4 separate regions of the Homo sapiens genome follow, and all the other regions are linked to region 1. The links come from fine-mapping of genetic effects on gene expression. A gene starts in region 1. Each other region holds a variant in brackets. All regions are shown on one strand. Distances are between the middles of the regions. Region 1 holds the start of SEC14L1 (SEC14 like lipid binding 1). Region 2 has its middle 10 kb from the start of MIR6516. Region 3 overlaps SEC14L1 (SEC14 like lipid binding 1). Region 4 has its middle 25 kb from the start of MIR6516.

What was found.
Region 2: its variant is fine-mapped to the expression of SEC14L1 in whole blood (TOPMed, PIP above 0.99).
Region 3: its variant is fine-mapped to the expression of SEC14L1 in blood mononuclear cells (TOPMed, PIP 0.96).
Region 4: its variant is fine-mapped to the expression of SEC14L1 in whole blood (TOPMed, PIP above 0.99).

What each region holds. Positions count from the first base shown.
Region 1 is chr17:77,136,731-77,144,763 of GRCh38, forward strand. SEC14L1 (SEC14 like lipid binding 1) reads left to right here and starts at 4,239. Exons shown (of 17, transcript NM_001143998.2): 1 at 4,239-4,377; 2 at 5,916-6,020; 3 at 6,837-6,929. The coding sequence starts at 6,867. It overlaps LOC105371901 (a long non-coding RNA gene), which reads right to left and starts at 4,709. Exons shown (of 5, transcript XR_934988.3): 1 at 4,626-4,709; 2 at 1-14. RefSeq lists silencers at 3,523-3,732, 3,883-4,092, 4,103-4,552, 4,717-5,011.
Region 2 is chr17:77,095,813-77,103,845 of GRCh38, forward strand. It overlaps a transcript of SEC14L1 not described here. Among named protein-coding and RNA genes, the nearest start is that of MIR6516, 10 kb to the left of the region's middle. The variant T/G (reference allele first, on the strand shown) is at 4,416.
Region 3 is chr17:77,169,544-77,177,576 of GRCh38, forward strand. All of the region lies in intron 3 of SEC14L1 (SEC14 like lipid binding 1), which reads left to right. Among named protein-coding and RNA genes, the nearest start is that of SEC14L1, 33 kb to the left of the region's middle. The variant C/T (reference allele first, on the strand shown) is at 4,651.
Region 4 is chr17:77,110,033-77,118,065 of GRCh38, forward strand. It overlaps a transcript of SEC14L1 not described here. Among named protein-coding and RNA genes, the nearest start is that of MIR6516, 25 kb to the left of the region's middle. The variant C/T (reference allele first, on the strand shown) is at 3,920.

The sequences.
Region 1 (8,033 bases):
CTCCGACTTGCTGGCTGGAGGGGGAAGACACACTGTGGTAATGGCAAAGTAGCAACACAGAAGGGGCCCGTGTTAGGCCATTCTCGAATTGCTATAAAGAAATACTTGAGACTGGGTAATTTATAAAGAAAAAAAGTTTAATTGGCATTCTTAAGAGAAAGCAATAATTTCTTTTTCTTTCTTTTTTTTTTTTTTTGAGACAGAGTTTCGCTCTTGTTGCCCAGGCTGGAGTGCAATGGTGCGGTCTCGGCTCACCGCAACCTCTGCCTCCCAGGTTCAAGCAATTCTCCTGCCTCAGCCTCCAGAGTAGCTGGGATTATAGGCATGTGCCACCATGCCTGGTTAATTTTGTATTTTTAGTAGAGACGGGGTTTCTCCATATTGGTCAGGTTGGTCTTAAACTCCCAACCTCAGGGGATCCACCTGCCTTGGCCTCCCAAAGTGCTGGGATTACAAGCGTGAGCCACCACGCTCAGCCACAAGAAAGCAGTAATTTCTTAGTATCATTATATGTTCAAATAGTGCTTAAGAGGTTCCACAGGCTGTTCAGGAAGCATGGCGCTGGCATCTGCTTAGCTTCTGGTGAAGCCTCAGGGAGCTTTTAGTCTTGGTGGAAGGAGAGAAGGGGGAACAGGCAGGTCACATGGTGAAAGCAGGCAGAAGCTCCAGAGAGTAGGGGGAGGTGCCACCCATTTTTAAGTGAGAAGATCTCATGTGAACTTAGAGAGAGCTCACTTATGGCCAAGGGGATGGCCCAAGCCATTCATGAGGGATCTGATGACCCAAACGCCTCCCACCAGGCCAGACCTCCAACACTGTGGATTACAATTCAACATGAGATTTGAGTTCAGACTATCTCAGGGCCTACATTCCTGATCATGAGGAATAAGACCACCTGCATCCACACAGCTTAGCCATCAGGACTGAGACCTAAGATCTCTGTGTCAACATGACTTACTATTTGATCCAGGAGATTCTTGTTCAGGAATATTAGACTGTAAACCAATACGTGCTTTCACTGTTTGCCTCAACAAATTCCTGAAAAAGCATTTATTGTAACAAAAGATTGCTTATCTTTACATATAACCCCCTTCTCTGGATAACAGTATAACCACCCAAGGGGTTCACCTTCCCTGCTGCCTAGAGAGAGCTGATTCATCAGGACAGGAGGATTGCAATAGAGTCATTCACACAGAGCTGGCTGTGCAGGAGATTGGAGTTTTATTATTACTCAAATCAGTCTCCCTGAACATTCAGGGAGCAGAGTTTTTAAAGACAACTTGGTGGGTCGGGGGAGGCCAGTGAGCCAGGAGTGCTGATTGGTCAGGGAGGAAATCATAGGGAGTCGGAGCTGTCTTCTTGTGCTGAGTCAGTTCCTGGGCGGGGGCCACAAGATCAGATGAGCCTGTTTGTTGATCTGGGTGGTGCCAGCTGAGCCATCAAGGGGAGGATCTGCAAAATGTCTCAAGCACTGATCTTAGGAGCAGTTTAGGGAGGGTCAGAATCTTGTAGCCTCCAGCTGCATGACTCCTAAACCATAATTTCTAATTTGTGGCTAATGTTAGTCCTACAAAGGCAATCTAGTCCCCAGGCAAGTAGGAGGTTGGTGGGCAGGGTGCTGTGGTTCACTCCTGTAATACCACCACTCTGGGAGGCTGAGGCAGGCAGATCACAAGGTCAGGAGTTTGAGACCGGCCTGACCAACATGGTGAAAGCCCGTCTCTACTAAAAATAAAAAAATTAGCTGGGCACTCGCCTGTAATCCCAGCTACTCGGGAGGCTGAGGCAGGAGGGCAGGAGAATCACTTGAACCCAGGAGGTGGAGGTTGCAGTGAGCCAAGATCGTGCCACTGCACTCCAGCCTGGGCAACAGAGTAAGACTCCATCTCAAAACAAACAAACAAACAAAAAAACAAAAAAAACCTAAGGAAAAAAATAGCAAAAAGTAGCCAGGCGTGGTGGCACATGCCTGTAGTCACAGCTACTCAGAAGGCTGAGGTGGGAGGTTCACTTGAGGCCAGGTGATGATGCTGCAGACGGCTATGATTATGCCACTGCCCTCAAGCCTGGGGAACAGAGTGAGACTGTTTCAAGAAAAAAAAAATGGAAATAAAGTTTTTTGTGATTGGTTGATGTCTCAAGTCTGTTTTTTCTTCAAAATGTTTAACTGAAGTATAATATACATATAAAAGCTTGCAAATCATAAATGAATGTATGGCTCAACAAATTTCCCAATCTCTTTTAATCTATAGATTGACCATTCCCCTCTTTTTTTCCTTTGGAATTTGATAAAGAATATATTTGTCTTGTACCGTTTCCCACAGTCTGTACTTTGCCAATTGTTTTTCATGGTGTCATTTAGCATGTTCCTCTATTCTGTATTTCCTGTAAACTGGTGGTTGCATCTAGAAGTTCAGCAGGTCAGGTGAATTTTTTTTTTTTTTTTTTTTTTTGACACGGAGTCTTGCTGGAGTCCAGCCCAGGCTGGAGTGCAGGGCAGGTGGCGTGATCTTGCCTCACTGCAACCTCTGCCCAGGTTCAAGTGATTCTCCTGCCTCAGCCTCCCAAGTAGCTGGGATTACAGGCATCTGGCACCACACCCGGCTACTTTTTGTATTTTTAGTGGAGACGAGGTCTCACCGTGTTGACCAGGATGGTCTCAAACTCCTGACCTCAGGTGATCCACCCACCTAGGTCTCCCAGACTGTTGGGATTACAGGCGTGAGCCACCGCAACGGCGTTAAAGCGTCTTTTGAAGGTGGATGTGATTTTTTTTTTTTTTTTTGGGACGGAGTCTCGCTCTGTCGACCAGGCTGGGGTGCAGTGGCGCGATCTCGGCTCACTGCAAGCTCTGCCTCCAGGGTTCACGCCATTCTCCTGCCTCAGACTCCCAAGTAGCTGGGACTACAGGCGCCCGCCACCACGCCCGGCTAATCTGTTGTATTTTTAGTAGAGACAGGGATTTCACCGTGTTAGCCAGGATGGTCTCGATCTCCTGACCTCGTGATCCGCCCACCTCGGCCTCCCAAAGTGCTGAGATTACAGGCGTGAGCCACCGCGCCCGGCCGGTGGATGTGATTTCTACAAACAAGCAAAAGCCAGTCAGACTGAATGTAGTGAATAATGTAGGTGACCCAGCTGGAAGATGATGGTTTGACGTGGAACACAAGGGGTGATGAGGCCATGAATGATTTGCTTGTGTGTCTGGTAAACTGGCTTTGATGGAAATTCCTAAACAGGTCCAAAAACGTTCTGTCCAATGGCAGCATGAAATGTACAGCCACTCAGGGTGACTAATGTGAACGGAACAACAGTGACTTTGACAGTGAAATTGCATGTTGGTTATAAAACCAGCTTTGCTGTGTGGGTGGGCATGCGAGGTGCCCCTTTCTAGTCATGAGCTCCTCTTAAGGACCCCAAAATGTCTCAGTGGTACCGGATTGAAAATTGGGGCTGGACGGTGCTCTCCTGCTGAAATTCGGGAGCTACTTAGCAGCCCCACCTTGGCACCCTCGTTTCCGAGGGGCAGGCCCTGGGCGCGCGTCTCAGTTTCAAGCCCGCGGCCCGACACTAGAGCCGTCTGGATGTGTTGACAAGGATGCCGCTGGGCTCCACCCGGGCTCACCCGGGCCCTCCCGAGCCCTGGGCCGCGCAGCACCGGCGTCCGCCTCCTCCCCATTACTCGGCGAGAATGCGGTCGGGGCACTGGCGCGAGCAGCCTGGTGCTCCTGAACAGTCAACAAGAAATGAGGAAGCACGGGGGCAGCCGCCAGGGCGACCAGAGGCAGGCCTCAGAGCAGCAGCCATACGGGAGGGCCCCGGTGGTTTTGACCTCCCGCAAACTTCCCTTTTCCCGCTCAGCCGAACCCCTCCCCTGCACGCCGGCAGCCCCTTGGGGCTTCACTCCGCCTCCGCCCGCTACTCGCGAAGCCCAGCCCGGCCCCGCCCCCAACAAGTGACGCAAAACTGGGAGGGGCCACGAGGACCTCGGGCACATCCAGCAGTGCGACGGGGCCGGCGCCTTCTCCGAGCTCCTCCCACGCTCGCGGGTCGGAGCTCGCGCCTGCGCAGTTCGGGCCCCGGGTGTCCTCCCCCCTCCCCTTTCTTAGCAACCATCGCCCGCTCCCGCCCCCGCTCCCTCGGCCGCGGCCGCGCACGCGCGCCCCTCCCGGCGCCCGGCCCCGCCCACCCCGTCACCCGTAACAACCACAAGTGCCGTCGCCGCGCCCCTTCCCCCTCCCGCCTCCCCGGCCCCCTCCCCGGAACCGGCGGTCGAGCTACGGTCGCGGAGCAGTGGAACCGAGACTGCCCCGCGGAGCCGCCGGTATGAGCGCCCCTCGCCACCCCGTGTCCCAGGCCCGGCCTTTCTGACAAGAGGTAGGCGCGTCGTCGCGGCGGGTCCGAGTGCGCCCTCGCCCCGGTCCCGGTCTCCGTGGAGTCCGGCGCCTCTCGGGCGGGCCCCCCGGAACTCCCGGCCGCCCGCTTGCTGAGCCTGTCCCTCCCCAGCCCCGGCTGCCATCGGCCCGGCACCCGAAACGGGCCGTGCCCCCGCCCCCCTGCTCGCCCTCCGCCCCCCTGCTCGCCCCTCGCCGCCCCTCGCCCCCCTCCCCCGCCCCCACCCCCACCTCGCCAGGCTTCCAGTTCCCGGGAGCCGCTTTTTGCTGAGAGCGGAGTTTCGGGTCCGGAGCCAGTGCCCGCCCCTCTCTCCCGTCGGTCGGGGCTTTGGCCCCGTGGGGCTCAGCCGCGCGGGACCCCTGCTGAGCAGCCCCGGGCGCCGGCCGCCCCTCGAGCCTGCTCGGGATGCGTTCAGTGGGTCTGGCCTTTGGCTCCTGTTTAAACAGCGATTGTCATGCAATGGAGGCCGTCCGGCTCCTGGATGCCACTTGGTCGTTGTCACTCCGGATGCCCGCGTAGGGCGTTTATCTGGACCAGAGCATCGGCAGCTGAGACCTGGCTGTGGTTCACAAGCTCGTGAATTAGCAGGTTCTTAAGTGAGTGTAGCCAGTTCTGCCAGGCGGTGGAATCCTGAATGGATGTTACCGTTTCTTAAACGAGCATTACGCTTTTTTGCTTCTTCCCCCAACTCTTGTTTGTACCCGGTTATCGTCCTCATATCTGGGAGAGTACCCTAAAATTAATATTCCCAATTAAATTTTTAAAAGATGATTGGATTCCCACTGTGCACCAACACTGTAAGGTTTGCAAAAGAAAAAGAACGTGGTCCCAGCACATCAGGATGTGTCAGTCGCATAATCAAGATGAATATTAGAAAAGCTTCAAGTTGAGTTTGGAGAACTTGGGAGTTTGGCTCTCATTCTCATGGTTTTAGAGGTGGAAGTCTTTCAAGATCATCTCCCCGAAAACCTCATTTTACAGAGATGAAACTGAGTCCTAGGGAAGTCAAATGGCTTACTCGTGGTCACCCAGAGTCATTCCTTAGCCGTTTTCACACTGTCAGATGGCGATGTTTTCCACCATGACCTCTCCTCTGAGAGGTATGCCAGACATACCAGAGAAAGTTCCAAACCTGTTTAAACCTTAGTACTATAGATGGGAATTCTATACCAGGCGCCGTGACTCATGACTATAATCCTAGCACTTTGGGAGGCTGAAGTGGGCAGATCCCTTGAGCCCAGGAGTTTGAGACCAGCCTGGGCAACATGGGGAAACCTTCTACAAAAAATATATATGGTGGTGCGTGCCTGTGGTCCCAGCTACTTGGGAGGCTGAGGCAGGAGGATCACTTGAGCTTAGAAGGTGGAGGCTGCAGTGAGTGGAGATTGTGCCACTGTGTTCCACCTTGGGCAACAGAGAGACACCCTGTCTCAAAAAAAAAAAAAAAAAAAAAGGAATCTTGGAAGTTTCTGAAATAAAATACATCTTGGTAATTTGTCTCTCTCTTTTTTTTTTAACAGCTAGACTTCGGGCTCCTTGAGGATATTCAGTTTTGTATGTTTGAATATCCTCTCACCATGTTCAGCATAAAGTACCATTCTTAATGATTATCCTCAACAAGACAGGTAGGCTCATTCGATTTTTCTTTCTCACTTTAAATAGGGGAGACAGAGGACTGGCAAGTCCAGGTGTGTTTTTAGAGCAATCCGTGTAGGCTGGCGCTAGAGAATGATTATGCACCCATAAGGAGGGCTCCTTGACTGTGAATTAGGTGTGAACATTTAACCGATTACTTACGGATATTAGCTATCTGAGGCTAGAGATTTCAGTGGAGCCTGTTTAGCCAGAATACTTGGCATCTCTGCCACTCGAAGACAGGTCGCCAAAGCTGTAGTGTACACAGTTAGAAAATAGGAATTGACACGTTTCCTTTGAAGCTAGCTTTTGAGGAGTATTCCATAGTTTGAGATACAGTAGTATTTTTTTCCAGTTTTATTTTTGTTTTCCCAGAGCTAATATCTTAACACGAGATCATTTTTATTTGGCTTCTAGTAGAAGTTGTTTAAGAGAAAATGATCCAAGCATTAATTATATTGGTTATTAGAATAATAGAATCATAACAGTTCATTGCTGGAAAGGACTCAGGTCAGGTCATGTAATGAATGCAGAGTCCCAGTAAGCCAATGAGAGGATTGGACCCCTCTCACACCAGTACTGTTTGCCTCATTGCATTGGGGCTTTGTCTGCTTTTTCTTATTGTTTAATTACCTCCCCCTGCCCTCATGTATTTAAATATCATCTTTTCATTTTTGTGTGCATAGAATTATGACCTATTGTGGTCTCTTTCTGTCGTTAGAGTGTGGTATGATGTGTCAGTGCAGACTTACTAATAATTTGTTTCTGCATTGTGGTTACTTATCACATATATTTATGTTTTGCAGGTGTGAGAGGGTTGCTGTTGTATTGCAATCATGGTGCAGAAATACCAGTCCCCAGTGAGGGTGTACAAATACCCCTTTGAATTAATTATGGCTGTAAGTACTTGACATTTCAATTTACTCTTTGGCTTCTTATTTATAAAGTACAGTGTTAGAATTTGATGATCTATAGATTTATTGTTCGTCTCCATGGCATCACTTGAACTTACTCTGTTTTTATGCTTATGAACCGTATCTAGAGTGTGTAAAATGTTTTTAAAATACAAGCCTCTGAAAATAAAAATCTGCTTATTAAAAAAAATGCACCTCAGGGTAATGTATGAATTGAAGTTAATTCTCCCTTTGAACACACAGAAGTGGGATTCTAAGCACTTCTTCCTCGGGGTTGTGCTCTTTTTTTCCTTCGTTAGAGTAGCAAAGGGACATGGAGTGTGGTCTTTGCTGCTCGTGTGGAAGAGTGCTCTGCCTATGGGTGAATTCACTTTAGGTGGTGTTAGAACTGAGCACTGTGCGATGGAGTTTTACTCACGATTCAAATGACTCTGTTGAATGAGTTTTTCCGTTATTTACCTGAAGAATTTGGCTGAAAATAAGCATTTTACTAGATGCAAAGCAAACCTTTTCCAGTCATTTTTAGATTACCGTAGGGTATTTCTTCTTTTCCTTTCTCTTTTGTGTTATTATTAAGATATAACATACATACCAGAAAATATAATACAGACAGGAGAATGTGTCTTTCATGAGCACACACCTGATGAAAACGTGTGTCACACTCAGCACACCTGGGATACTGGCACCAAGGTCAGGAACCAGAACATGGCAACCCAGGAAGAAGTCTCCCCTGGTTCAAGTGAGCCACTGTTTTGACTCCTAATACACAGAGGACTGTTACCTGTTTCTGTTCCTTCTATAAATAGAAACGCAGGTGTTTTAGCAGCTGGCTGCTTCTGCTCAGCGTATGTTTGTGGGATTTATATAGATCAATAGTTTTGAAAAACAAGAAGTCCTCTTACGGGAAGAATTTACATGACAGGGTTTGTTTTAAAATTTATTTTATTTATTTTTTTGAGACAGCGTCTCACTCTGTCACTCAGGCTGGATTGTAGTGGCGCGATCTCAGCTCACTGCAACCTCCATCTCCTGGGTTCAAGCGATTCTTCTGCCTCAGCCTCCCAAATAGCTGGGATTACAGACCTGCAC
Region 2 (8,033 bases), 41 kb before region 1:
TCTCAAAAAAAAAAAATTAACTAATTACTGAAATAAATAAACAGCCTTCACTAATTCTCCTACACAGTAATGGGCGCGCTCCTCCTACACAGGACTGGCATGCTGGGCATCTTTCTGGGTGATGGGAGGGAGGCCTAGACTCCATGGGTGGAGGCCTAGGAAGGTTTTGTGTGGCTGTCAGGAACATTCCCTGGCCTTGGCTGTCTCCTGCTGTCATTCAGTTCCAGCTCCTTGCAGTCAGTCTTTTTTTTTTTTTTTTTTTTAAATAGAGATGAGGTCTCACTGTCTTGCCCAGACTGGTCTTGAACTCCTGGGCTCAGGTGATCCTCCCACCTCAGCCTCCCAAAGTGTTGGAATCACAGGCATGAGCCATCACGCCTGGCTACAGATGGTGCTTTCAATATTAGCAATGGATAATTAAATATGTGGTTAAGAAGTTGTATTTAAGGTTAAAAATCACTATGAGGCTGGGTGTGGTGGCTCAAACCTGTAATCCCAGCACTTTGGGCCAAGGCAGGCGGATCACCTGAGGTCAAGAGTTCGAGACCAGCCTGGCCAACATGCTGAAACCCTGTCTCTACTAAAAATACAAAAATTAGCCAGGCGTTATGTTGCGTACCTATAATCCCAGCTACTCGGGAGGCTGAGGCAGGAGAACCGCATGAACCTGGGAGGCAGCGGTTGCAGTGAGCCGAGATAGCGCCACTACACTCCAGCCTGGGTGACAGTGAGACTCCATCTCAAAAAAAAAAAGTCACCGTGGGACACAAGCCCTGTATCAGAAAAGGTATAGAAATTAAAGAACAGTTAAGTCAAGATTTTGAATTTCTCTCTTCGTCCACTAGAGGATGTAATCCAACACCAGACTGTGTTCTCTGATGTAACTTGGTATAGAGTTTGGGTTTTGGGGCTTTTTTGTTCTGTTTTGATTTGTGTAATTTAGCCAAGACTTTCTGTGACCAAAAAGTTATGTCTGTTGTAACTTGGTACAGAGTTTGGATTTTGGGGTTTTTTTGTTTTGTTTTGATTTGTGTAATTTAGCCAAGACTTTCTGTCACCAAAAAGTTATGCAGAAGATTCATCTGCGGGGCTGGGCTCTTAGTTACGAATCTGTCCGGTTGTCCCAGTGGAATCAGTCCAGGTGTCTTGGTTCGTGATAAGTGCTTTCCTTGGAAGCGTTTATCATGTCAGGAACCAAGCACAGGCACTGCACGTGGAGATAAGAGCGTGTTCTAATACATTTCTCCGTTCCAATGTACTCCCAGTGCCAGCTGGTGAGAACATCGGGAAAGATTTTCTTTGTAAGGAATCCAGTGTTAACACGTACCAGTATTTGAAGTCCCAGACAGTGTGCATTAAGGGTTTAGAAGTGTCTCTGGCATGAACATTGCTTATAACTTGAAATTGACAGGTACTTATCAAGACCAAACAAAGTTTGCACAAAGCCAGCACAGTTAAGAGTGCTGATTGTGGCCGGGCACGGTGGCTCACGCCTGTAATCCCAGCACTTTGGGAGGCCGAGGCGGGCGGATCACAAGGTCAAGAGATCAAGACCATCCTGGCCAACATGGTGAAACCCCGTCTCTATTAAAAGTACAAAAATTAGCCGGGCGTAGTGGCGCACGCCTGTAATCCCAACTACTCGGGAGGCTGAGGCAGGAGAATCTCTTAAACCTGGGAGGCAGAGGTTGCAGTGAGCCGGGATTGTGCCACTGCACTCCAGCCTGGCGACAGAGCAAGACTCCATCTCAAGAAAAAAAATTTAAAAAAAAGAGTGCTGATTGTTAGCTGGTGGGAAAGTGGACTTGCTGGGTGGGGGCGGGGGAGTGGGGAGAATGACCATTCTGAAAGTGTAATCTTCAACAGAGTACTGTACGTTCTCTGGCTTATTAGCCCGGTGAACAGCTTTCTGATGGTTTTAGTTGAACAAGTATTGCTGGATATGTTAAAATACAGCCAGAGGCAAAACATACTCCCTCCTCTCAGAGAACTTATATCCCAGGATAGGGGAGACTGGAAACAGGTCATTAGAATATGCAGAATAACAGATGAGTGCTATGGAGAGAAAGACAGCAGCCCCACTACGGAGGAGCACGGGATGGGGTTTGCAATTTTAGATGGGTGGCCTTTAACCAAATCCTTCAGTGAGAGTAAGTCACATGATGACCAGGAAGAGCACCCCAGCAGGGGAGGCAGCCAGTGCCCTGGCACACAAGCAAAAGGAGTTGATGAGAGGGCTGGGGGGCTGAGGCCAGATCTCATGGGGCCTCACATGGAGGAAAGTGTGGGACTTCTGCCTTTTCTCTGAATAGTGTCCGTAGCTTACATATTCTATCTACTCTTGCCTTTTAGGAACCATTTTTCCCTCTAATGGTAGTTTACGTTAGAAGTATTTCCTGTTCTAGGCCCGGTGCAGTGGCTCATGTCTGTAATCCCAGCACTTTGGGAGGCCAAGGCAGGTGGATCACCTGAGGTCAGGAGTTCGAAACCAGCCTGGCCAACATGGCAAAACCCCATCTCTACTAAAAATACAAAAATTAGTCAGGCGTGGTGGTGCATACCTGTAATCCCAGCTACTCGGGAGGCTGAGGTACGAGAAATGCCAGAACCCAGGAGGCAGAGGTTGCAGTAAGCCATCGTCGTGCCACTGGACTTCAGCCTGGGCGACAGTGAGACTGTCTCAAAAAAAAAAAAAAGTATTTCCTGTTCCTACACATTGGCCCATTGAGAGGATCCCAGGTCTATGCATGGGGACACCGTCTTTTTGGCTCATGTTGAGCCACATGTCCTGCAGTATTTGGAAGTGTTCTGGGACAGACTTTGTTCACATAAAGATCGCGTGCCCTTCACTGCAGTGATGAAGCTGGAGACTGTCTTTCTCTGTGACAAGGACCTCAGCCCTGGATCTGTCCTCTCCTAGTGCCCACCTCATTCATGGAGCTCACCCCGTGGTTTTGGAATTGTTTCCTTCCCTGTGCCTTAGCTTCCCTGAACACTACTTCTACACTAGCTCCTTGAGAGTGGGAGCCCTGGACTTATTGCTTTTTCAACAGAGTAGATATGTGTGTTTCATTTATATCAGTATTTAAATTGCTAGCAACAAGACCACAAAAACTACATTCTCATAGAAGCCTGTTTGGGTTTGATGTGGTTACATGTGATTAATGTATTTGAAATAGTTATTTGTTGTGATTTTTTTTTTCAGATCAATTATGCAGCTACAGCCAAAACCAAGTTCTTTTTATTGCAATGGTAATGAAAGGAGCCCCGTGTAAGTCACTGGAAGGTCACATGTTCACAGACTGTCAGCTGTGGAGGGTTATGTAACAGTGGTTATGCAATGCCACGTTAGAACTACAGCCCGAGCAGCAAAACATTTAGATAATTTTATTGAATTAAAATAAGACTTCCACTCTCTTTGAATGACAAATCCCTTTTAACAAAACCAAGACTTGGGTTTTAATGTTGACTCCCACACGAGGCTCCGTAAGCCACATTTTACCTTCTATGCGTGGCTGGCCCCATTGAGTAGATTTCTGAAAGTCAAATTTCTGACATGAGCCTATTTGAAAACTTTGCTCAGTTGTCATCTTCTATCAGGATGAGTTATGGACGAAGCCCCCCATAAATCCTAAGGCACATCTTGAAGCCCCTAAAATCCAAAGGCATGGCCGGGCTCACATCTGTAATCCCAGCACTTTGGGAGGCCAAGGCGGGTGGATCACTTTGAGGTCAGGAGTTCGAGGCAAGCCTGGCCAACATGGTGAAACCTCGTCTCTACTAAAAATACAAATATTACCCGGGTGTGGTGGCACACTCCTGTAATGCCAGCTACTTGGAGGCTGAGGCAGGAGAATCACTTGAACGTGGGAGGTGGAGGTTGCAGTGAGCTGAGATCACCCCACTGCATTCCAGCCTGGATGACAGAGTGAGACTCTCTCAAACAAAAACAAAAAAAATCCTAAGGTACGTGAGTCTCCTTCACTAATGTACTGTCTTTGTTCCAAGATACTTCACCCCTTCGAAAGTTAACGGGGAAGATCAAAAGGAGGTATTAAGAGATCAAAATGAAATAAAGGCTTCATGCGTTTTTTGTTGTTTTTTTTTAACATGCCCCAGCATTACAACAAAAACATGTCTTTTTGTTTAAAAAAATTTTTTTTCCCAAAGTAATACATGCATTAGTTCAAAAAATTCATAGAACTAAAAGGCTTCTAACACTAGGCTAAGCTTCCCTGCTCTGGCGCTCCCAGCGGGAGCCATTTTCCATTCCTTCAGCTTCGCTGGTTTTGTTTCCGAGGAGCGGGCGTGCTGCGCTGCTTCTCTTTGAGTCATCTGGGTCCTCGCCTGTTGACTTTCTTCCTGGTAGATGTGGACTGACCTCTTCCTGGTAGATGTGGACTGACTTCTGCCTA[T/G]TCACCCTCTGCTTCCCCTTCTGCACCCTCCGAGCACTGTGGTCATCTGTACATGCGGCATTCACGTTAGTGCGCATGCGCAAAAGGTGCCTACCGCCCTGCGCTGCAGTGTGTGCATTCTGTATTGTTGTCCCTGTTAATTTCCCCTTCCTTGGCTGGCTTTTTCTTTTTTTTTTTTTCTTTTCTTTCTCTCTCTCTCTCTTTTTTTTTTTTTTTTTTTTTTTTTTGAGACAGAGTCTCACTCTGTTGCCCAGGCTGGATTGCAGTGCTGTGATCTCGGCTCACTGAAACCTCTGCCTCCTGGGTTCAAGCAAATCTCCTGCCTCAGCCTCCAGAGTAGCTGGGACTACAGGCGCCCACCACCACGCCCGGCTAATTTTTGTATTTTTAGTAGAGACAGGGTTTCACCATGTTGGTCAGGCTGGCCTCAAACTCCTGACCTCAAGCGATCCACCCACCTCGGCCTCCCAAAGTGCTGGGATTACAGGAGTGAGCCACCGCGCCCAGCCTGGGCTTTCTCTGAACCTGCTGCTAAATTCTTCCCACACTTCCTGGTGGCCTCTCAGCGTAACTTTACGTAAGGTCAATCAAGTTAATTTATCCATTCCAATTTTTTTCTTAGATGAGTGAGAGAAGACTTTTCATACAATTGATTAAAGTTTTGTTACAATATTGTATGCAGGGGTCAGGCTGTAGTAGTCCAATTCATAAGTTCACATTTAGGTAGGGATATTTTATAGGAAAATATAAGAGCTGGATTATTGTTGTTAGGCCAAATCTAGAGTCACAGGCTGATGGTTCTGACAGGCAGCTGGTTGGGTAACTGGTTTCCCAGAAAACTCCTTCCCAATCTTGCCAGTCTCTACCCAGAAGCAAGTTATGAATTTATTAATTATATCAGGTAGAAAGGGCTCTGTCCCAAGCCTGGTTTAGTGTTAAGCATATAGTCCCTCTCTTTTTTTTTTTTGAGACAGAGTCTCGCCCTGTTGCTCTGTTGCCCAGGCTGGAGTGCAATGGCACAATCTCGGCTCACTGCAACCCCAGTCTCCCAGGTTCAAGCAATTATCCTGTGCCTCCTGAGAAGCTGGGATTACAGGCGCACACCACGCCAGGCTAATTTTTGTATTTTTAGTAGAGATGGCGTTTCACCATGTTGGCCAGGCTGGTCCCGAACTCCTGACCTCAGGTGACCCGCCCACCTCAGCCTCCCAAAGTGCTGGGATTACAGGCATGAGCCACTGTTCCCGGCCCCTCTTTTTTGACCAGACATAATAACTGTCATGGTTAAATCCCTGTCTTGGTTCAGAAGGCCCACGTTGTTGCATTTTTGGTCTAAGAATATAAGTGAATTTGTTGTCTAGTTGAGTGCTTCCCAAACAATTTGCAAAGGACTCCCCTGGGGATCCCATCAAAATGCAGCTTCTGGTGGTTCTGTGGGTCTGGCCTGGGCTGGAGATTCGGCAGTTCTCACAAGCTCCCAGGCCATGCTGATACTGCTGGTCTGAGGACCACTCGGTCCTTTCTCAGGGATGGTGGGACTTAGGCGTGGACTTACTTTGTAGAACACATCATCCTGACTATTGGTGGTGCTCATTTACACGTTGATGTAATTCCTTTAAACCAGCGTCCTGTGTTAGGGAAAACGTTCCCAACAGTCCCGTTGCGGTCACCATTTCTTGTAGTTTATTCACCAGGGTCTCTATGTCATGCAAGCTGGGTTCTCTGAGGTCTCTTATTTACATAGGTACATCAAGAGGCAATGATTAACATCCAAAGACCTCTTTGCTATTTGCTTAACAAAACTGCAGTCATCTGTTGGGGAAATATAATTTAAAAACAAAATCCCCCAACCCAGAAAGCCTCGCCACAAAAGTAAAAGCAAAAGAAAACAATTTTATGATTGAATAAGCATTAAACCAAAACGCGTTGAGCATCACAGGCAGCCCACTGAAAGAACTGCAGAGACAAATCTCCCGCTTTGATACAGCTAAGTGGATACAGCCCATGCACTGTGTAAGTGGGTTTTGCCATTTAGAATCAGGTGACAGCTGAAGTTGGGATCATCCCCTCCGGAAAACAGTTATCTTCCTTGATGATTACAGTTCACGTGGGTGGCTCAGGTCCTTGGGGAAACATGACTTGAGTTGGGGGAAACTGGCAGGAGACTCATTTAACCACTTGAAAGCTGTATACACTTTTGAAAAGGACAGAGAAAGAAATTCTGAAAGGATATGGAAGTGAAGGGTATCTTCCCTTGTTTTCTTTCTCTTCTTTTTTCTTTTTTTCTTTTTTTTGAGAGGGAGTCTCACTCTATTGCCCAGCCTGGAGTGCAGTGGCGTGATCTCGGCTCACTGCAACCTCCCCCTCCCAGGTTCAAGTGATTCTCCTACCTCAGCCTCATGAGTAGCTGGGATTACAGGCACATGCCACCACACCGAGCTAATTTTTGTATTTTTAGTAGACACAGGGTTTCACCATGTTGGCCAGGCTGGTCTCAAGCTCCTGACTTCAGGTGATCCTCCCACCTTGGCTTCCCAAAGTGCTGGGATTACAAGCATAAGCCACCATGTCTGGCCTTTTTTGTTTATTTTAAAGACAGAGTCTTACTTTGTGGCTCAGGCTGGAGTACAGTGGTGTGATCATGGCTTGCTGTGACCTCGAACTCCTGGGCTCGAGGGATCCCCCCTACTCAGCCTCCCAAGTAGCTGGGACTATACAGGTGCATGCCACCATGCCTGGCTAATTGTTTTACTATTTTTTAGTAGAAGCGAGGTCTCACTATATTGCCCAGACTGGACTCGAACTCCTGGCTTCAAGTGATCCTCCACCTCGGCCTCCTAAAGTACTGAAATACAGGCATGAGCACTGCTTGGCCTGAAATGATTTTTCTTTCTTTTTTTTTTGAGAGGGAGTCTTCCTCTGTAGTCCGGTCTGGAGTGCAGTGGCACGATCTCAGCTCACTGTAACCTCTGCCTCCCAGGTTCAAGCAATTCTCCCACCTCAGCCTCCTGAGTAGCTGGGATTACAGGCACATGTGACCATGCCTGGCTAATTTTTGTATTTTTAGTAGAAATGGGGTTTCACCATGTTGGCCAAGCTGGTCTAGAACTCCTGACCTCAGGTGATCCACCTGCCTCGGCCTCCCAAAGTCCCGGGATTACAGGCATGAGCTACCATGCCCAGCCAGATTTTTCTTTTTTGTTGTTGTTTTTTTTTTGTTGTTGTTTTGTTTTGTTTTTGAGACAGAACCTCACCCCAGGCTGGAGGGCAGTGGTGTCATCTCAGCTCACTGCAACCTCTGCCTCCTGGGCTCAAGCGATTCTCCTGCCTCAGCCTCCCAAGTAGCTGGGATTACAGGCATGCGCCCCCATGCCCAGCTGATTTTGTGTATTTTAGTAGAGACGATATTTTGCCATGTTGGCCAGGCCAGTCTTGAACTCCTGATCTCAAGTGATCCTCTTGTCTCGGCCTCCCAAAGTGCTTCTCCATGGCAGTAGTTACTGTCCCCAGCCCTTGCAGTCATCCTTTCCAATAGTCTCTCCTCCTACGCCTGGATTTGTTTTTCATTTGACACTGAGCTGCCAGAAGGCCCGGCTCCATGGGGTTATGAGGATACAA
Region 3 (8,033 bases), 33 kb after region 1:
CCATTCCAGCCAGGCATTCGCATCTTGGTATCCTGTTCTAAGCACTAAAGTTTGTTTTAAATCTTTAACCTTTACAGTGCCTACTATAGTTTCGTCATGGGGTATGGAAAGAACAGCTGTTTGATTGGAAGAGGGTTTAGAAGGAGAAGAAGGTGAAGGGGGTTGAGGAGTAATGAAGTGCATTTCAAAGGATCCTTTGGGGTCCTTTCCAGGAATATTAGCTCCTGGGCCATAGAAGTGACCTAGGGTAGGCTTGGTGTCGGTAGAGGTGGGGACATTAATAGAGATTTGCACAGGGTTACACTGTTGGAGTTGACAGGTGGAGGGGGTTGTACCTTTGGTAAAGTGAATGTAAGGCTTTAGATAGGTACAACCTATTGAGGAGGTCCAGCCTTGACACTTGGTGGTATAGATTACATCTCCCTAAGTATCACAGAACTACCAGTTATAGGATCGGCCTCAGTCCATGCAAAAGTCAGTTCTGTAGGCAGTTTTATTTATCCTGGAAGGGCAAAGGTACTTTTCTGAAGAGGCCAGCTGTCTTTGGCTTTGGAGATCCCCACAGGGCATAACAAGACAAGCATTAAAAGTAATGGTTTGAGGGGAGCTAGATCTGGTTATATTAATAATAAGATGTGTGGTAGCTGGGGAAAGGAAGCTAAGAAGGAAGAGACAGATTAAACTTTCTTTTTTAACGTGACTCTGGTTGGGGTGGGTCCTGGAACGGCAGTCCATGACTCTGGAGAGGATGGTGCTCTTTTGACTTGGGTGTGATGAGTGCAACCGTTTTTGGTGGTCCTGACTGCCGTTTCAGTTTTTAGAAGTACTAAATAAGGTTCTTCCCAAGTAGGTTTGAGCTTTTCTTCTTTCCAACTTCTGACGAGGACGTAATCTCTGGGCTGGTGATGATGGCCTGCAAATTCAAGGGGTGCAGTTTGTGCTAAAAGGCCTTGAGTCCTAAGAGAGGAAAGGGTGGAAGACAGACCTGATACATAGTTTTTGAGAAATTCATCCTTTGTTTCAAAAGTGGGAATGTCAGTATTAGAGTTTAAGTAAGGCAGTCCATAAAGCATTTCATAAGGAGAGAGGCCAGTGTCCTTTTGCGGGGCTGTTTGGACTCTGAACAGGGCAATAGGAAGGCATTTTGTCCGAGGTAGCTGGGTTTTTAAAATTAGTTGGGTTAAATGATTTTTTAAAGTTTGGTTCATTCTTTCTACTTTTCCTGATGAGGGTGGATGCCTTGGTGTATGATATTCCCATTTTATTCCTAGTGCTTGAGTGAGCCCTTTAATAACGAGGGCAGTGAATTGGGTTCTATTGTCTGAATCAGTGTTTTCTATAATTCCAAACCTAGGTATAATTTGTTTTAATAAGGTTTTAACTACATGTTTAGCTGTTGTGTTTGGGAAAGGGATGGCCTCTACCCAGTGGGTGAGATGATCTACTATTATTAATAAATAGTTAACATGGCCTACTGGGGGCATTTCAGTGTAATGAATTTGAATTTTTTGGAATGGCGTTAACCCTGAGTTTTTTCCCCCAAGGGCTTGCATCTTATTTGTTGATTTATTAGTTTTTTTTGCATATTATACAACTATCCACAATTTACCTAGCAAGGGTATAGATTTCTATACACCCATAAACTCCGAGAGCGGCATCACACATAGCCTGGGGACCCCAGTGAGTTCCTTGATGGAGTTGAGACAACATCCCTCTTATGAGAGGTTTAGGCAACATTTCCCTCTCATCTGGTAATATTCGTTTTTCTTCTGAGCTTTCTTTGGCTCCTATTTCATTTAACTTTTCTTGTTTGTTATGGGAAAAGACGGGGACTGTGGCTGGGGGAGGGAGACAAGGAGTTAAATGGAAAATGGGTTCCCGTTGGGGAAGAGGCAGCTTGCTTGGCTATTTGGTCAGCAAGATTATTCCCTCAGCTTCTAAAGGAAAGATTTCTTTGATACCTGGGACGTGAACAACAGCTATTTGTTCTGGCAACTATAGATTTTCTAATACTTGAATTATTATGTCCCTGTGGACTAAGTTACTGTTAATGAGGCCTTGCTCTGTTCAAATTTTTCCAAGGTGTGGACCACTCCAAAAGCATACTTGGAGTCTGTATAAATAGTTCCTTCCTGGTTTTGCAGAAATTTTAAGGCTTGATTTAATGCAAACAGCTCACATGTTTGCGCAGAGCAGGTGCAGACCCGTTATTAGGTAATCTTCCCGATTTTATTTCTGTGAGGATATCTCCGTTTACTACTGAGTACCCGTTATGCCTTTTTTCTTTTATTACTTGCCTCGATTTCCTTCTTTTGACCATACATCTGGATGGATGTATCCTTTATCTAGGGTAGTGAGCAAATTTAGGGAGGGGAGGAATTTTTCTTGGTTAACATAGAGGTCTGGGTTTAATTTTAGCATTAAATCTCTTCCTAAATAGGTTTGTTCCTGCCTCCGGGATTAACAGAAGTTTAATATTTACTGAGCGGTCCTTATATTTAATTTCTGTTTCTTCTAAGATTTTTGCTTTAAACCCCTCTTCTTTTACTCCCGAAATAAAAAGTTTTTCCTGTGAACAAGTTACACCAGGGGGAAGATAACAAACTGAGGAGCGAGCAGCTCCTGAATCAATGAAAAAGGTGATAAGCTCAGGTTTGGGTCCCACCTCTAAATTTATCAAGGGCTCTTGGTGGGACTTGAGGTAAAAAAAAGAGTGGAGCCCTTGACCGCCGTATTCTTCCTCCAAGGTCATGAGTAGAATGACTTCTTTCTCTTTTTCCCATCTGGGACATTCCTTTTTAAAGTGGCCTATTTTTCCACACTTGAAGCATTTGTTTTGCCCTTTTCCCTCTCTACTTTTGGGTTCTTTGGCTGTGCTGTTTTATAGCCTTTATATGGCCTGGAAAGTGGGGGCTTAAGTTCTTTATAGGTTTTGGCCCCTGAGTGTTCTGTTGTGGGGCGGACAGCATGATCCTTGCTTTTTGTTTTTGCTTTTCTTTTCCTCGTCTTTTCGTACATATACCTTTTGAGCGTCTCTCAAAAGCTGCTCTATAGATTTATCTTTCCAGTTCTCTATTTTCTATAACGTGTTTTGTGATGTCTGGCCAACTATTGGTAACAAAATGGAGCTTTAACATCCCCTGCCCAAGAGGGTCTTCTAAACCTAGACCTGCATATATCCTCGCTTGCTCCTTGAGCCTTTCTAAGAACTCTGTAGGTCCTTCATCCTTCCCTTGTTGTATATAGAAAGCTTTGGGAATGTTTTGGATGCGGAATACAGATTTTTGAGTTCCTTTAATTATCAGTTCTCCAAGGTCTTGCATATTCCTCCAGTAGGCTGCGTTGTTACTATCCCATTGAGGATCTGTGGCCGCAAGTTTTTGCTCAGCTGCTGGGACGTTCTGACCTGGGGGATGCTCACGTTCCCAAATTGTCATAGCAGCCCTGCGAATCATGCTCCTGTCTTCTCCTAAAAAGCGAATACCTAGGATAGACATTAGCTCAGCCCAAGTATATATCTGGGGTCTGAGAAATTGATTAATCTGGTCAGCCACTATATAAGGGTCACTTAAGAGTGGTTTGAGCTCCCTTTGTAGGTTTCGGACCTCTGAGCTAGTTAATGGAGCATTTAGCCTCCTCTGAGGGGCACTTCCCTTAAGGGGAAGAGAGTTGGAGCTAACTCTTTAGAAGTGGTGGGGAAAGGGAAGTTTTGAATATCCTTTTTACATTGTTCTGTCTCGCACCGAAGTCTTCCTGGGGGAGGGCCCTGAGGCTGGGAATGATTCCAGGAGTTAGGATTATAAAGAGGGGGCACAACGTGAGTCGGGGGAAGGGTCCAGGGCGGCTGCCTGAGGGGGAGGGAGGTGAGAGGTATCTGGCTGAGGCAGATGGTCTAAAGGATCCCATGTGGGTTGCTTAGGGGTGGGGGCCTTAGTTTCTATAGGGTAAGTAGTTTCTGGCTTATTCTTACTGGCTTTGAGGGGGTAGAGGTGGACAGGCCCCTGCCGTCAGCACAGGGCATAGCGTATCTCCTCCTGAGGGACAGGACTCTTGTTATTCACATACTCTATTAAAAGTTGACAAATCCAATCCTCATTTGACCCAAACTGTAGCCAGAAAACTGATGGTTTGAGGATAGTTTCCTTAGTCCAAATAAAACAACAGTATTTTATCATTTGTTGCTTTTTCTTATTTTTAGTCCTTTCATTATCTTTCCAGTATTTTAGCAGGAGACCTAAGGGGCTGTCCCGGGAAATTCTATTGTCTTGCTTGGGGTATTTCGCATCCTGGAGAAGGTGTTTTTTTGAGTTTGTGAGGCTCAACCTCTCTTACTAGAGATTTCTTGCACCCTTTCTTTTTTTCTTTTTTTTTTTTTAAGGTGGAGTCTTGCTCTGTTGCCCAGGCAGGAGTGCAATGGCACGATCTCCGCTCACTGCAGCCTCTGCCTCCTGGGTTCAAGCGATTCTTCTGCCTCAGCCTCCCAAGTAGCTGGGACTACAGGCACACACCACCACACCTGGCTAATTTTTTGTATTTTATTTATTTATTTATTTCCTTGGTAGAGATGGGGTTGCACCATGTTGGCCAGGCTGGTCTTGAACTCCTGACCTTGTGATCTGCCTACCTCAGCCTCCCAAAGTGCTGGGATTA[C/T]AGGCATGAGCCACTGCGCCTGGCCTCTTGCACTCTTTCTTTAGAGGCCCAACCCCCCTTACTTGAGATTTCTTGCATTCTTTTGCTTCTGCTTAATCCTTCTCTGGCTGCTTCCTTTGTGGGAATTTTCAGGTCCCCCTTAGCGTTGGTGGGTCGGTATGATCCCCCGACAGGCAAGACAGGCAAGCTGTCCTAAGCTGTATGAGGTGACCACGGAACCACAGATCCGGACTCCACACTCAATTGTGCGTCTCATTCACACACTTTCAACCTCCAGGATGTCCTGACCACCAAGGAAATACTGCACTGCCATTGTGTTTTTTCTTAACCTTTGTCTCTGCACAGAGTTACCTGGTCACTGTGGTATTTGTAGGCCTTTTTCTCCCGCGTTGCTAAGCGTCCGGGTTTATTCGTCACACCAGGTGGGTCTCGATCCCTAACCCTTGAGGCCACCACAACGAGGCAGTGGGACCTGTCTCCTCACGAGTGAGGACTGGAGACCCTTCCCCAGAGGAGAATGGGAATCCTGGATGGGCCCCCAGATTGTTGGGAACAAGTAAGCTGTGCTCAAGAGAAAAACTAGCACTGAGACAAAGGATTTCTCAGCAAGGCAATTTACTTTTGCAGAAGGGTGCCGCCTGCATCTGTTACGACTGCAAGAGCACACTGAACAAAGGAGGGAAGGGGTTTTTATCCCTAACGCAGTTCCTGTCGGTGTCCTTCCCCTGTTGGCTAGGATTGGACTGTACAATCTAAACTGATCCCAGTTGGCTAAGACTTAAAACTTTTTTGAATAGGATAAACGCATGATTTGTAAGAGAAAGAGGGGATAGGAGCAGTCTGTCTGTTACAGTACAAGGTATGTCTGGACTTGTGTGAGCATGTCAGGGCACAACAAGAGCAGGAGGGTTGTTTGCAGGCCAGAAACAAGAGAGTATAAGGAGGTTGGGCTTCTGAACAAAGAACAAGGACGTTACACAGTTAAACCCTTTGAAGAGGAATTCATCATCTCTGGCGCTAGTATTGTTGCAGGATTCAGGAGGACGAGAGAGAGATCTCGGGTTAAAACAGGAGAATCTTTTATTGAGTGCACTCAGGCCCAGCAGATTCACACCCAAAGGTTGGGCTCAGAACAAAGACAGCACTTGACTTTTATACACACTTCACAGAAGGGGGTGGGCTAGCTAAAGCAAGCTTATAGTGGCGTGAAAGCAGGGATACAGAGGTGGGACAAAGACAGTTAATTAAATCGTTACAGGTTCATAACTCAGGATTGCACATAACTGTTGCTATGCAACCCAGATGTCCGTTATCTGTGTTTGCCTAGGCATGGACTTATCCTATAACCTTCACTGTGGTGCCCGGGCAGCTGTAGTTCCGGCCTACTCAGGCTTTTCATGACCTTCATTGTATTTCTTAGATAAAACAATACTTGAAGTCACTAGTTACAGAGAACAGGAATCTATAAACTCATTCTATAAAACAAAGAAAAATTTGTTTTTTCTTCTCCCTGTGTTGAGGGAGTGCTGGGAAAGTCTCCAGAGCACATTAGATAATATTATCAAGACTTTTCCTGGGTCTCGGCTGTGCCTGTTGCTGCCTCTGGGACAAATCAGCCTAATACAGGAAAACTTATTTCTCTTTCTTTTAAATTTTATTTTTCTTTAATTTCCGGCCTCCGTGTAGCTGAGCCCAGGGCTTTTTATGGGCTCAGAATAGGGAGTGTGTGCTGATTGGTTTGTGAGTATGCAAAAAAGGTTAAAGTGAAGACACCACTCAAAGGTGGGCATGATAGTGTAGAAAACCAATTAGGAGACTGGACATGGTGGCTCATGCCTGTAATCCCAGCACTTTGGGAGGCCAGGGTAGGTGGATCACCTGAGGTCAGGAGTTTGAGACCAGCCTGACCAACATGGTGAAACCCTGTCTCTACTAAAAAGGCAAAAATTAGCTGAGCGTGGTGCTGCACACCTGTAATCCCAGCTACTCAGGAGGCTGAGGCAGGAGAATCACTCAAACCCAGCAGGCAGAGGTTGCAGCGAGCCGAGATCATGCTATTACACTCCAGCTTGGGCAATAAGAGCGAAACTCAGTCTTGAAAAAAAAAAAGTAAACCAATTAGGAAAGGATAGGTATATGTAAAATAGGTGAAAGACGGATCAATCAGAGGAAACTGTGCCAAATGAGAAGGTGGGTTCTCAGTCCCGTGTGAGGATTTACCCAGGACTCTCTCCAGATTGAAGGTTGGATTTCACTGGGGACCTGCTCCTGTCTGCCTAGGCATTTGTCTGCCTCCTGCCTCTATCAGTATGTTTGTTAAAATTGATGAACTAATATTGACAACATTATTTTTTCCCCACTGGATGTCTCTTACACAATAATTATGGTTTTTTGTTTGTTCGTTTGTTTTTGAGACAGAGTCTCGCTCTGTTGTCCAGGCTGGAGTGCAATGGCAGAGTCTTGGCTCACTGCATCCTCCACCTCCCAGGTTCAAGTGATTCTCCTGCCTCAGCCTTCTGAGTAGCTGGGATTACAGGTGCCTACCACCATGCCCGGCTAGTTGTTGTATTTTTAGTAGAGACGGGGTGTCTCCATGTTGTTCAGAGTGTTCTTGAACTCCCAACCTCAGGTGATCCGCCCACCTTGACCTCCCAAAGTGCTGGGATTACAGGCGTGAGCCCCTGCACCTGGCCAATTATGTTATTTTTAACTAGAATCTGTAGTTTAGGTTCACTCTGTGTTGTACATGTCTTTGGATTTTGACGATGCAACTTTACACATCCTTAGAAATCCTTCTGATTAAGAATGAAGCAAAGACATTTTTTCTTCAACTTAAGTTTATTATTTTTTCAAATGGTTACTAAGTTATTAGGACATAAATGCTTTTTAAATTGTTTGGACATAGTAACTTAATAAATCATCAATTTTTTTGGTCTTGAGGCACCATGAAAGTTACTGAGACATCAAGGAACACATGTGACAGTGCTGAAGGACAAATGTACCCAGATGAGCTGGTCAGGAATGTCTGAGATGATTATGTTCAGGACAGTGAGCAAATTTAAAACATAGAGCCCCCGGGCTGATGTCTGAGATGTCCGTATTGAGATCGTTCAGAAATGTAACAGACAGTAGAATAATGATGGGCCTTATTTTTCTAATTTAAATTTAAATGCAAAAGATACAATTGATCAGGCATACTAGATTATACTTTGAATTTCATTTGAAAGCTCAGTAACTCTATGTCAGCCTATTAAATAGTGTTAACAAAAGTTTCCAGGTAGTCTTGGCTGGAAATTCTTGAAGAAGAATACATTAAAAGTACTTTAAGAGAAAATATTCCAGAAGACCTTGTTAAACCAGTTTTAGCTATGGTTAGTTGCATG
Region 4 (8,033 bases), 27 kb before region 1:
ACTTCAGGCCAACTGCTTCCTTTTAACTTTTGTCATGTTACCCAGAATAGAGGCATGGAGTTGTTTACCCGGTTTTCATTGAGGAACATTCTTTGTCTTCCAAGGAATACATAAGAAGCCTTCCTGTCTCAGAACACCAAGCTCTGAAAGGTGACTTTTCTGCTCGAGTAATTACACTGGTTGACTGAGCTCCGGAAAGGAAACGCATTCTTGGTTGCAGAGAGAGGAAGTGGCTTGCATTGTTGGACAAAAAGAAAAATGATTGTTTCCTAGGGTCACTGTCCTCAGCCTCCCTTTAGAGAGCCTGGATCTTGCAGCCATCAGTTATGGAAGTGGCTCTGGGAATAACTTTGCCCTGGGTGATGATTGTTGATGAAAAGAGTCGAAGTGTATAAAATATTTGAAGAGATTTATTCTGAGCCAAATATGAGTGACCATGGCCAGAGACACAGCCCTCAGGAGGTCCTGAGAACATTTGCCCATGGTGGTCAGGACGCAGCTTGGTTTAAACATTTTAGAGAGGTATGAGACATCAATCAAATACATTTAAGAAATACATTGGGGCTGGCTGGGCGCGGTGGCTCATGCCTATAATCCCAGCACTTTGGGAGGCTGAGGTGGGTGGATCATGAGGTCAGGAGATTGAGACCATCCTGGCTAACAGGGTGAAACCCCATCTCTACTAAAAAAAAATACAAAAAATTAACTGGGCGTGTTGGCAGGCACCTGTAGTCCCAGCTACTCGGGAGGCTGAGGCAGGAGAATGGTGTGAACCCGGGAGTTTGCAGTGAGCCAAGATTGTGCCACTGCACTCCAGCTTGGGCGACAGAGTGAGACTCTGTCTCAAAAAAAAAAAAAAAAAAAAAAGAAATACATTGGGGCTGGGCACAGTGGCTCACTCCTGTAATCCCAGCACTTTGGGAGGCCGAGGCAGGAGGATCACTTGAGGTCAAGAATTTGAGACCAGCCTTGCCAACATGGTGAAACCTCATCTCTGCAAAAATACAAAAATTAGCCGGGTATGGTGGCAGGCACCCGTAATCCCAGCTACTCGGGAAGCTGAGGCAGAAGGATCGCTTGAACCCAGGAGGCAGAGGTTGGAGTGAGCCGAGGTTGTGCCATTGCACTGGGTGACAGAGCGAGACTCTGTCTCAAAAAGAAAAAAAAAAAAAAAAAATACATGTGTGTGGTCCAGAAAGGCGGGACAACTCAAAGCCGGGGGTGGGATTCCGGGCTATACGTGAATTTAAAGATTTTTTGGTTGACAATTTTTTGGCTGAGTTTGTCTAAAGACGTGGGATTGATAGAAAGGGAATGTTGAGGTTAAGATAAAAGATTGTGGAGACCAAAGTTCTTTTGAAGTGTTTTTTTTTTTTTTGAGACAGAGTCTCGCTTTGTCGCCCAGGTTGGAGTGCAGTGGGGCAAAAGCCACAGACACTCAAGGCCAGCCAGTGCAAGCAGCCGGCAGCCGGGAGGGGGGCTGAACCCCAAAAAGCCACAGGGATGGAGCTGCCCAAGGCCATGGGAGCCCACCTCTTGCATCAGTGTGACCTGGATGTGAGACATGGAGTCAAAGGGGATCATTTGGAACTTTAAGGTTTAATGACTGCCCTATTAGATTTTGGACTTGCATGGGGCCTGTAGCCCCTTTGTTTTACCCAATTTCTTCCGTGTAGAGTGGGTATATTTACCCAATGCCTGAACCCCCATTGTATGTAGGAAGTAATTAAGTTGCTTTCAATTTTACAGGCTCATAGGAGGAAGGGACTTGCCTTGTCTCAGATGAGACTTTGGACTTGGACTTTTGGGTTAATGCTGGAATAAGCTAAGACTTTGGGAGACAGTTAGAAAGGCATGATTGTGTTTTGAAATGTGAGGACATGAGATTTGGGAGGGGCCAGGGGCAGAATGATACAGTTTGTCCGTGTCCCCCACCCAAATCTCATCTTGAATTATAGTTTCCATAATTCCCAAGTGTCCTGGGAGGAACCCGGTGGGAGGTAACTGAATCATGGGAGCAGTTACTGCCAGGCTGTTCTCGTGTTAGTGAGTGAGTTCTCAGGAGATCTGATGGTTTTATAAGGGCCCTTTCCCCGCTTTGCTCAGCACTTCTCCTTCCTACTGCCCTGTGAAGAAAGTGCCTTTCTTCCCCTTTGCCTTCCACCATGATTGTAAGTTTCCTGAGACTTTCCTAGCCATGCAGGACTGTGAGTCCATTAAACCTCTTTACTTATAAATTAGCCAGTCTCGGGTCTCTCTTCATAGCAGTGTGAGAACAGACTAATGCAGGGGGGCTATTATGTTGCCAATCACAGGTATATAATAAAAAGTTAAGAATTATAATTTCTAAGTGGTAGGATTTCCCTTAATCCTTTTCTCTTATCTATATTTTCAGAAGTTTTCCCAGGAATACACATACTGCTTTTGAAATGAGAAGAATGAAATCTCATTTATAGTCTATATTGACGTCTTTGCAATGTTCATTAATCCACCTCTCAGGACAGCCCTGAGAAGTGCATACTGTTCCTGAACAGTTAACAGTTACAAAGATGAATTGAAAAGTATTTAGGCGGCCAGGCGTGGTGGCTCACACCTGTAATCCCAGCACTTTGGGAGGCCGAGGTGGGTGGATCACGAGGTCAGGAGATCGAGACCATCCTGGCTAACACGGTGAAACCCCATCTCTACTAAAAATACAAAAAAATATGGTGGGCACCTGTAGTCCCAGCTACTTGGGAGGCTGAGGCAGGAGAATGGTGTGAACCTGGGAGGTGGAGCTTGCAGTGAGCCAAGATCGCGCCACTGCATTCCAGCCTGGGCGACAGAGCGAGACTCAAAAAAAAAAAAGAGTACTTAGGCATAATGGGTCATGCCTGTACTTCTAGCACTTTGGGAGGCCGAGGTGGAAGGATCACTTAAGACCAGGAGTTCGAGACCAGCCTAGGCAGCAAAGCAAGACTCTTTCTCTACAAAAAAATTAATCAGGCATAGTGACATGTGCCTGTAGTCCTAGCTACTTCGGAGGCTGAGGTAGGAGGATCACTTGAGCCCAAGAGGTTGAGGCTGCACTGAGCCAAGATCGTACCACTTCACTCCAGCCCAGACATTAGAGCAAGACCTTGTCTCGAAAAACAAAAAAAAGAAAGAAAAGAAAAATAATGCTTTTTACTAGGATTTTTACAATATGTGAAACGAATTCTATCTTGAGAACAGAGTATTGGTATTGCCAGTAATATTTTAAAGTTCTTTTGCTTCCAAAAAGGAAGGTCACCTTCCCTGTCTATAAGAAGTCAGTGCCACCTTGGCCCACAGAACCTCAGATTCTCACCTCTGCCTTCCCAGCCAGCCTTCCCTTCTTGGGCACTTTTCTGGGACACAGGCTGAATGCACCCAAAAATGCATCAGCAGGCTTGATAAAGAACGAGTTAAGGCTGGGCTCAGTGGCTCACACCTGTAATCTCAGCACTTTGGGAGGCCGAGGCAGGTGGATCACCTGAGTTCAGCAGTTCTAGACCAGCCTGGCCAACATGGTGAAACCCTGTCTCTACTAAAAATATAAAAAAATTAGCCAGGTGTGGTAGCACATGCCTGTAGACCCAGCTATTCAAAAGGCTGAGGCACGAGAATTGCTTGAACCCAGGAAGCAGAGGTTGCTATGAGCCGAAATTGCGCCACTGCACTCCAGCCTGGGTGACAGAGTGAGACTCTGTCTCAAAAAGAAAAGAAAAGAAAAAGTTGAAACACCAACCAAGGTAAGTTCATCTCCCTTCTAAGCCACCCATGAGACACTGCTGGGGTGAAGAAGTCACTGTCTGTGGCAAAAACCATTTAGATGAGAAGTGGACACCCTTAAAGCTTCCGCTTCCCTCTGCAGTACAGCAAAGAGTTAAGCATGATAGGTTAGTTTCTATTATTCCCA[C/T]CTTGTGCAGAGATTCAATGTCCCCTACCCTACTCACAGGCCTAAAATGCTCCCCAGGCACAGCCTTCTGGTCCCAGGAGAGAGATCCCGGCTGCTAAATGCGGGTGCAAATAAAATCAGCAAAGGGCGCCCTGGATGTGAAGGAGGTGTGGGTGTCAGCCTGCAATCCCCACCTGCAGCAAGATCATTTTTATAAAACCCTTTGTTTGGCCACCTGGATATCTGTGACAAATGATCCCAGGAGCCACTGCCTTCCCTCCACCCCACCACATGATTCAAAAGGCAGGCACTGGCTGGGCAAGGTGGCTCACGCCTGTAATCCCAGCACTTTGGGAGGCCAAGGTGGGCAGATCATGAGGTCAGGAGTTCGAGACCAGCCTGACCAACATGGTGAAAATCCTGTCTCTACCAAAAATACAAAAATTAGCTGGGCATGGTGGCGATCACCTGAAATCCCAGCCACTCAGGAGGCTGAGGCAGGAGAATCGCTTGAACCTGGGAGGCGGAGGTTGCAGTGAGCCGAGATCGCGCCACTGCACTCCAGCCTAGGTGACAGAGCTAGACTCCATCCCAAAACAAACAAACAAAAAAGGCAGGCACTGGCCAGGCACAGTAGCTCACTCCTGTAATCCCAGCACTTTGGGAGGCCAAGGCGGGCAGATCACCTAAGGTCGGGAGTTCGAGACCAGCCTGGCCAACATGGTGAAACCCCGTCTCTACTAAAAATACAAAAATTAGCTGGGCATGGTGGCGCATGCCTGTAGTCCCAGCTACTTGGGAGGCTGAGGCAGGAGAATTGCTTGAACCCAGGAGGTGGAGGTTGCAGTGAGCCGAGATTGCGCCATTGCACTCCAGCCTGGGCGACAAGAGCAAAACTTCATCTCCAAAAAAAAAAAAAAAAAAAAAAGGAGGCAGGCACACACTTGAAACAAGCCATTAAGTCCCAGTAGCATTTTCTGGAGGCTCCCAGCTATAGCAGGAACACAGGTCTCTTCTCAGTTCCTGAGAAGAGAACTGTTTTCTTGTTTTGCCTTTAGTCATTTACTTGAACCACTCCAGAAAACTGCCCGTCCTGCTGCTGCCTGCCTCTGACCATGTACCAGTCACAAATAAACTGGGAAATGCAAACGTGGGTGTTTTATATAACTTGCAGCCCCTGCATCTGCAGCTGTGTATTTTGTTTAAAGCTGCAAGCCCGGCCGGGCACGGTGGCTCATGCCTGTAATCCCAGCACTTTGGGAGGCCGAGGTGGGTGGATCATGAGGTCAGGAGTTCAAGACCAGCCTAACCAACATGGTGAAACCCCATCTCTACTAAAAATACAAAAATTAGCTGGGCGTGGTGGTGTGCGCCTGTAATCTCAGCTACTTGGGAGGCTGAGGTGGAAGCATTGCTTGAACCCGGGAGGCAGAGGTTGTAGTGAGCTGAGATCGTGCCATTGCACTCCAGCCTGGGCAATAAGAGCGAAACTCCATCTCAAAAAAATAAATAAATAAAAAAGCTGCAAGCCCTTCTGCTTTTCCTTTGGTGGCAAAGTTTGGTCAAGGGTGTTTTCAACAATAATTCCACTTGTTTCAGGCCCCTTTTGGGGCTCAGACCCTTGCTCCTGACTGTGGCTGTGAAGGGGTGGAGGTCTAGGGCCTTCATTCTGGGTGGCTGCTGTTCTTCCCTGATGCTGCCCCCTCCAAGAGAAGGGATATTTTAGGCGCTGATTACATTGTGAGTTGTTGCAACCAAAGGAGCATGTTCTCTTGCTTTCAAAACACAGGAAACAAATCACTGTTTTCTAAGTGAAAAGGAACAAAATCAGCACTGAGAGAGGTCGTGGGAGCTGTTTTCCAAGTATCTCAGAATACTTGGCAGGATGAAGCAAGAAGACCTATATTTAAAATCTTCTTTATCAAGGCCTGTTTGAAGTCAGTTTATTGTTTGGTAAAGAAAAGAAGACAAAAGTTTTGACTCTCCTTTTTTTTTTTTTTTAAATTTTGAGACAGAGTCTCACTCTCACCCAGGCTGGAGTGCATTGGCACCATTACTGCTCATCGCAGCCTCCAACTCCTGGGCTCAGGCGATCCTCCTGCCTCAGCCTCCTAAATAGTTGGGACTACAGGTGCACACCACCAGGTTCAGCGAATTTTTATTTTTATTTGTAGAGATGGGGTCTCACTATGTTGCCCAGGTTGGTCTCAAACTCCTGAGCTCAAGCATTCCTCCTGCCTCAGTCCCCCAAAGTGTTGGGATTATAGGGATGAGCCACCACACCCGGCTGACATACATATTTTTAAATGCTGTAAAAATTCACATTGATTTAAACGTTTTAGGGGTCTTTGCTGTTGCAAGAAATTTGTGTGCCTGAGGAATCCCTAAATAAGGCAGCCTGTTGTGAGAACTATAATAATGATGTGAGTAAAACCCGGAGCCAGAACCCAGAAGAAGGAGAAATTAATTCTGACCCTTAAATCTCGGTGTCACACAGAGGAAATGAACCGGGAAGGATGGTGTGGGATTGTGGAGGGCAGAGGTTGGGAGAAAAGACCTTCCAGTTGGAAGAGGCTCAAAGTAAAGTTCTGGAGTGGGAACTTGGGAGGAGGCACCTGCTCCTGTCTGAACAGAGAGCCATGTGACGGACCTGGTTTTCAGCCCCTGGCTCTTGGGGCAGAGTAAAACTGAAAGGCTCATATTTTTCATCATTGTTTGCATATTGTGTTTTACAAGTCTGAGAAGTAGTACAGACATAAATTTGCTACAAAGCCAATTTGGAATTTGAAGGGACATTTTTATCAGTAACAGGATGTTTGAACAAACTTGGAATTTCATGGACTTTTCCACAACCCTCTTTCATGTCTGTAAGGAGCTTACCTGGCAGGATGCTCTGGGGTAAGTGGGACTGTAGAAGTCCCCTGTCTCATCCACCACTGCAGCTGTGAGAGGGGGCTGGGGCCATGGGTGGGAGGATTTTTGGACCATGATTCCAGGCGGACACCCCATCTTTACAAAATTAAATGGTAAGCATCCTCTTCATTTGCTGTAATTGGCTGTCTCTGGTGTTAGTTGAGTTCCATTTACCCAACAGTTTTCCGTCTTTATCTATTCCCTGCAGTAAATGCAATGGAAGGCCGGGCGCAGTGGCTCATGCCTGTAATCCCAGCATTTTGGGAGGCCGAGGCGGGTGGATCACGTGAGGTCAGGAGTTCGAGACCAGCCTGGCCAACATGGTAAAACCCTGTCTCTACTAAAAATACAAAATTAGCCGGGCATGGTGACACATGCCTATAGTCCCAGCTACTTGGGAGGCTGAGGAGGGAGAATTGCTTGAACCCGAGAGGTGGAGGTTGCAGTGAGCCAAGATCGAGCCACTGCACTCCAGCCTGGGTGTCAGAGCGAGACTCTGTCTCAGAAAAGCAGAACAAAACAAAACAAAAAAAATGCAGCTGAAGTAAGCTCTACACAGAGGCACCGTTGGGGTGCACGTAGAAACCCAATCGACATCTTTCCAAGAGATTGGTATTTTAAAAAGAAATAATAAGCTATTCTCACAGGCCAAATGAATGTTTGACAGCCTAATCAATTGCCCTGAAGCTTTTAGACAGGGCTGATGAATTAGCATAACTTCACAGATCAACTCTTAGATGAGAATTTTCCCCATGGAGTTGGCCTGTCACCAATGAATTGCTCAAGAAAACCCAGCCCTACTGACCCTGGCCAGCTCCTGCAGGAAGAAATATTTGGTAGGCTTGAGGGATAAGAAAGTCTTTCATTCCAATGAAGTTGGGCAAAGGGGCTTCGTTTGGGGACCTTTTGGTCTTTGAGACTCCCTGAATATTATCTCCTGTGCCTCCTTCTTCGTTCCCACCACTTTAAGGGAGACTATGCAGAATGACAGAATGATTTGGCCTTTTGCAGTGGGCCTCCATGGGACCCAGCATGATAAGAAGGCCCTAAAAACAAGACTGCCCTGGTGGATCCCTCACCTCCCCCTACACAAGGCTGGCACTGAAGTTCTCTCGAACCTAGGACTGGGAGCCCAAGGCTTGGACGCCAAACAGCAAAGCTTCATCTAATCTCAGTCAGCTTCAGGGTCAACTGGACAGCGGGAATCATTTGATTTTTTCCA